2 separate regions of the Homo sapiens genome follow, and region 1 is linked to region 2. A link means that fine-mapping ties the variant in region 2 to the expression of a gene that starts in the linked region. Tissue or cell type: esophagus mucosa. Region 2 holds a variant in brackets; the other region holds the start of a gene. All regions are shown on one strand. Distances are from middle to middle.

Region 1 (2,907 bases), 25 kb after region 2:
CACCAGGTGCGCTGGGTGGTTTGCCTTGGAGTGAAGGCTCCGGGTTAGCCCATTGCTCCATTCTGTTCATAGACCTCACCCTACCCCGCCTGCCCATGCGTAGCCCCAAGGCCTACCTGGTGTCCAGTTGTGTCTCATGGTCATGATGCATGCGTCAGGAGCTGGTGAGCCTGGCTCTTTATCTGTGACAACGTCCTCTTCTCTGGTGAAAGGTGGGGGAGGAGAATGGTAAACCACTCCCGCTTTTTCTCAGTAGCTGGCTTTTCCTCAGTAGCTGGCTTCTCCTCCCGTAGCATAGCCTGGAGCTCTTTCAGCACTTAGAAACAGAGCTGGGGGGGTCAAGTGACAATCCTTCCCCACCCCAGCTCTCATGACCACAAATGGTTGTAAGATGCTTACCTAGTCCAATCTTACCCCTTCATTAGGGAAGGCAAAATTGAGACCCAAAGAGAGAATATGGACTCACCCAGTCACACAGGGAGGCAGTGCTCTCTTCAGCACCAGAGCTGCTTCTGGGAAGGGCAGGATGCCGAGCAATCCTTCTGGGAAAGCACTGCCCCGACCCTCTATTTCACTTTCACTTTTTAACCAGGGAATCTTGAGCAGCTGTGACACCTCTGCTTTAGCCAAAGTTCAGTGGCCAGAAACCTTCAGCTCCTGGGACTCCTACTCTCCAGAGGATACCAGACTGGGATCTCTAATCTACCCCCATGCCACCCCCAGGGTCACCTAGGGTATGAACTAGATGAGTCTCTCACAGATCAATTCTGTCCCGCCCAAGTGTCAGGACTTTGGTGTCCGCCTCCCCTCTTCACAGCCAGGTCTTTGTTTCCATATGAACAGGCATCTGCTTCCTCCTTCACCTTCACACTGACATTCAAGGGGACAACTTTCCTAGGCACTGGGGAACCCCAAGTTGGACCACTTCAGGCTCAATGCCATACCAGTCCGTCCACATCCTGGCCTTTCCCAGGCTACCCACTCCCCCAGCCACCAGCCCCAAGGTCGGCTACATCTCCCAGCACCCACCATCACACCCTCTGTCTCTCATCCTAGCCCCTCTGGCCAGAGCCACAGGTCTAGGTTCACTAGTAGTCCCAGACTCCTACCTGGCTCCTAAGAGGTCCTGAAGAGCCTTCCTTTCCAGAAGCTTCCCTCTAGGAGCTCCAAGACTCAAGTTAGCTGTGTCTAGCTGCGTGTGAACCCACCACAGGAAATACACCGAGAGCACTTCCTCCTTGTCTGTAGAACTCTCACGGCCAACCCAGGAACTGGCACACAAGCTCGAGAGCCAACCCTAACAGGAGGGAAGGGCAGGCACTTCCCGGGGAAGAGGCGGACTGGCTCAACACTGGCTCTGGCAACAGAGTCTACATCAGAATATGAATCTTGTCACTGATGGGACAAATGGCGCTGGGGCTGCGGGAGGGCCAGGATTCAGGGTGAGGCGTGTGAGGAACCTAGGATGCTAAATCTAAGGAGGTTTTCTCTCAGGGTCATGCAGTTATCCATGGAGGCAGAAAGACCAGGGCTGGGTGATCCAATGCATGCATATATTAAGTGTGGACAGGAGCTGCATGTCTGAGGTTTGTGACTCCTGTGATTGGGAGGGTGCAACGGCTGGTGACAGAGCCAGGGAGGCCCACAGATGGAACTGGGTTTGGTGGATGCATCAGGAACACAGTCAGCTGTGATCTCAAACTTCTTGTAGAAAAACCAGATTCATATTCCTAATTTAGACATAGGATACTACAAGTCACATCCTTCTTCTCTAGGTGTCTAGTTCATGTTTTTCCTCCTCTCAATTCCTCCCCCTACCTCCTGCCCCAGGGGCTTCTAGCATGTAAGATGCAGGAGAAATTCCTCCCAAGAACACCAGCATCTCCAGGAGTTAGGTCAGGAGGCAAGGCTGCCTGGGGTTTCTGAGAGAGACAGTCCAGTGGGGGATGGTAGGGAAAGATGACAGGACTCTGTCTTAGTGGAACCGAGACCAGAGTCAGGCCAAGGGGGGAGGTCAAGGGACTCAGAACTGTTACACATGAAAAGAGCTTTGGACAGCCTGGCCTCGGCTTCTCACCTGAGCCTGACAGGGGGGTGGGGGGAAAAAGTAAAAGGAAGGGTGATCCCTAGGTCCTCTGACCAGCCCCATTCCCCTCTCTGAGGAGGGGAACAGCCCCACAGGTGGCATAAGCAGCAGGGTACCATGGGAAGCCACAGCTGGGGAAGAGAAGCCGAGCCTGAGTGTGGTCCTCAGGAAGGCAGGTGGTGGCGGGACACTGTCCTCAGGCAGTGAGAACATAGAGCAACCTCAGTCTGAAGGCAGGCCCAATGATGCCCCAGGCCCCCAGGCCACAGGACAGGAGCCTGGCATTCCACCACTCCTAGGGATGTCAGCAGGGGAACAGCTGGGAACAGCAGAAAGGCAGGCCCAACCACCCCCAGACCCTCAGGTCTCCGATGGGGGTTAACAAAGGCAAGACACCCCTGGGGACCCCAGGGAAAGAGGTGGGAAGAAGAAAGCAAGATAAATGTTCAGCTTTCCAACCCAGCTCATGGAGCTTTATTCAGACGGGAGTGACAACATCCTGCTTCGTTCTTGCTGCCCTTGAAGGGGCAGGCCCTACTGAGCCATATTCCCTAGAAACCCAATGCCGAAGGCCCATGTTTGACCTCCCACTTTATTCAAGTCGCCTAGGACTAGGGCTGGGGCCTTCCTAGAAGCCCCCTCTCAGAACCTGTTCTCACCCACCCACCACTCCCGTTGTCAGGCCCAGGGAGGACCCATGAATGACAAAAATCATGTAGGGATATTCCCTGGACTGGGAATCCCCTGCCAGCTTCAAGGACATATCATCTGACACAGGGAGAAGCTGACATCTGTCATATTCTTCTGCCTCACGTACACAC
Region 2 (2,907 bases):
CCTTTCCACAGAGCTTTTTTATGTTTGCAAATAGGGTGGCAGAGTGCCATCTTTTCCAGAAGAACCCCATGCCTCAAGTCCCCTCTTCCCACCCACCACACAGTTCCATCTGGATAAATGGTGTCCTGGTATCTGTCACCTGCCTCCAGGATCTGATCTGGATCTCTTCCAGATCCAGCAGAGATCAAGACTGGAAGGAATGGGGAGGTACTATGAAATGCAGCAGCAAGGAGGCAAAGATTGCTGAATACTCTGGTCCTAATACTTGCTCTTTTTCTAGCCATGGCACTGAAGAGGGACAGCAAATCTTGAAGCAGCCGGTGTCAGAGAGACTGGACTTTGTGTGCAGTTTTCTGCAGAGTAAGCACCTTTCTTATCCAGCTATGAAGAAGCTGCTTCCTCAGCTCGTGGGATTGGAGAGTCCAGAGGAACTAGTTCATGGGTGTCTGGAGGAGAAAAATTTCAAGGCTCCCCACTCTTTAACACAAAGATGAAAACAGCTGGTTCAGATCCCCTGGGTCTTGTGATGCCTTCATCAGTTGGTGTAAGAAGAGTGTCCCTTCAGTCCCAGAGCCCTTCTCGGAGATCTAGGTGGAGCCAGAAGGTTACTTTTTGGGACCTGTCACTTTTAACTCTTTGAGCACCTTAAGTTTCTGTTTCCCCGAACTTCAAGGAGACAGAAGAGAGAATGAGTCTCTTTCCCTTGCAAGAAAAACTGTTTTTCCCAGATAACTTTGAATTAATTGCTTAGGCGATAGGTGTAGGGGCAGAGGCACATTAAGGTTGATCTTGACCCCCCTCACTGCTTGTGTGACCTTTCTGGACATAGGTTCCCTATCTATAATATGGAGATAACTGCTCTTCAAGTGGATGGGTGGATTAAATAAGAACACATGCAAAGCTTCTAGTACAGTGCTTTTCAGTTCCCCTCCCCTTGTCCAGCCTTAGACCACAGAGTCCTCGTCTTTGACATGGGGAGCTAGCTGCCATCTCCACCCCTAGAGAATTATAGGAAAGGTGAGGCTTTATTTAGATAAAGTAAGGTGTTAGTAATTTGAGCCCAGACCCTCGGGCAGTATAAGAGTCACGTATCCCTAGTTGTCCTTTTCTGACTCAGCTATAGGTTTACTCTGTGACCTCAGTTGGAACAGGATTCTAAAGTGACCTGGCATCTCTGGGCTCTTCCTCTGTGGTGCTGAGAGTTGGTGAGTGGGTGGGAGAGTGCAACATCATGACCCAGAGTTGCTGTGAATTCCGAGGCTGCTTTCTTCTTCCATTATCCCTGTAGCCCTTGGATTGACCCAGGATAGAACTGACTTCAGATGGAAAATTGTAAGGCAGGGGAAAGAGGCCATAGGAGTAAGGAGGCCTACATCTCATAGCCCCACCAGAGATAGCCATTCTGCTCCCCAGATTTCAGTGTTCTGGGATCTCAGGTATGGTTTCCAGGAAGTTCACCCTGTTTTCTACGTTGTTGTCATTGCAGAAAATCGAAAACATCCCTCTTCCCCAGAATGCCTGGTATCTGCACAGAAGGTGCTAGAGGGATCAGAGCTGGAACTGGCGAAGGTACCTATGGAATACCAGACTGGGGAGGCAGGGCAGGGTTGGGGTGATGGTACCTGAGGGACCCTGCAGGGCCTTCTCTTAACCCAAGGGGAGATGATGGGTGCTTTATTTCTGGGGCTCTAGTACGTTGGAGGTAGAACCAGGCAGCCACCTGTCTTGAGACAGAGGCTAATTTAGCCCAAGGATTCTAGGAGCCCATGATCTTATGACAGAGATTATGAAACAAACAATGGTTTACTAGACCATTACTGTGGGCCTCGGTGGAGACCTGGCAGAAATCAG[G/A]TCTCATTCGGCTATCACCATATTTTTATTATAGCTCAGTCTTAAGTCATTCCCTCTGCTCTTTCTGGGTGCTGGCCTATAGAGGGTACCTAAAGCTTCACACCCAGGGTTCCATGAGTCCAGGAATTGAGCCATGCAGGAATCTTGGCGCTCAGCTTTTTGTACAGTGTACACTATCCTTAATTAAAAAAAAAAAAAAAAAGTGTTTCCTGGAGCTGTTAAGGATGGTGGCCTGGGATTGCTGAATTCCAGGACTTTTAGAAGAGTCACCGGAATAGCTCAGAGTCCCCAGAACAGCCCAGAATGGGGGCACTGAGAAGAGAGACAGCCCCACTCAGTGACTGCCTCCTGTTTGGCTTCTAGATGACCATGCTGCTCTTATACCACTCTACCATGAGCTCCAAAAGTCCCAGGGACTGGGAACAGTTTGAATATAAAATTCAGGTAAGCCCTTGTGCCTCCATGCCACCTAGCAGGCCTAGCCCATGCTTCACCTCACCTGACTTGTTTTTCTTTGAACAGCAGATACTGGACTTTTTAAAAATACAGTTATAGCAATTATTGCCATTCATCATAGAAAGTCTGGGAAACGTTGAAAAGCATGCAGGAGGAAATAACAGTTGCCGATAAACTCATTCCCAGAGTTTGCTAACTTTTTAAAGGATGTACTTTCAAGTCCTTTTTTATGTGCATATGTTTAACTGTAATGTGTTTTAGGATAATACGTAGAAATTATTCTCTGTTCCTATATGTGTTTCTGTGTGTGTGTGTTTTTTTTCCCCCACAGAACTTTCACTTCATTTATCTCATCCTTTCCTCTGGTAGGGTCATCTGGAAGAGGCCAACATAGTTATATATAAAAGCTTCCTGGCCGGGCGTGGTGGCTCACGCCTATAGTCCCAGCACTTTGGGAGGCCGAGACAGGAGGATTGCTTGAGGCCAGGAGTTCAAGATCAGCCTGGGTAACATAGCGAGACCCTGTCTCAACAAAAAATATTTTTTTTAAAAAAAATGAGCTGGGTGTGGCAGTGTGTGTCTGTAGTTCTAGCTACTTGG

Direction of the effects. Positions count from the first base shown, and alleles are read on the strand shown. Sizes are in standard deviations (SD) of each study's normalised expression.
In carriers of allele G in region 2, the expression in esophagus mucosa of the gene that starts at base 1,220 in region 1 tends to be higher than with A alone (large effect, 1.2 SD a copy in GTEx).

What was found. PIP is the estimated chance that this variant, and not a neighbour inherited with it, causes the effect.
Region 1: IL18BP starts here. The variant in region 2 is fine-mapped to the expression of IL18BP in esophagus mucosa (GTEx, PIP 0.97).

What each region holds. Positions count from the first base shown.
Region 1 is chr11:71,997,222-72,000,128 of GRCh38, reverse strand. IL18BP (interleukin 18 binding protein) reads right to left here and starts at 1,220. Exons shown (of 6, transcript NM_001039660.2): 1 at 1,110-1,220; 2 at 117-202. The coding sequence starts at 144. RNF121 (ring finger protein 121) reads right to left here. Exons shown (of 9, transcript NM_018320.5): 9 at 2,532-2,907.
Region 2 is chr11:72,021,727-72,024,633 of GRCh38, reverse strand. NUMA1 (nuclear mitotic apparatus protein 1) reads left to right here. Exons shown (of 27, transcript NM_006185.4): 5 at 281-360; 6 at 1,487-1,569; 7 at 2,215-2,295. Among named protein-coding and RNA genes, the nearest start is that of NUMA1-AS1, 8.9 kb to the right of the region's middle. The variant G/A (reference allele first, on the strand shown) is at 1,852.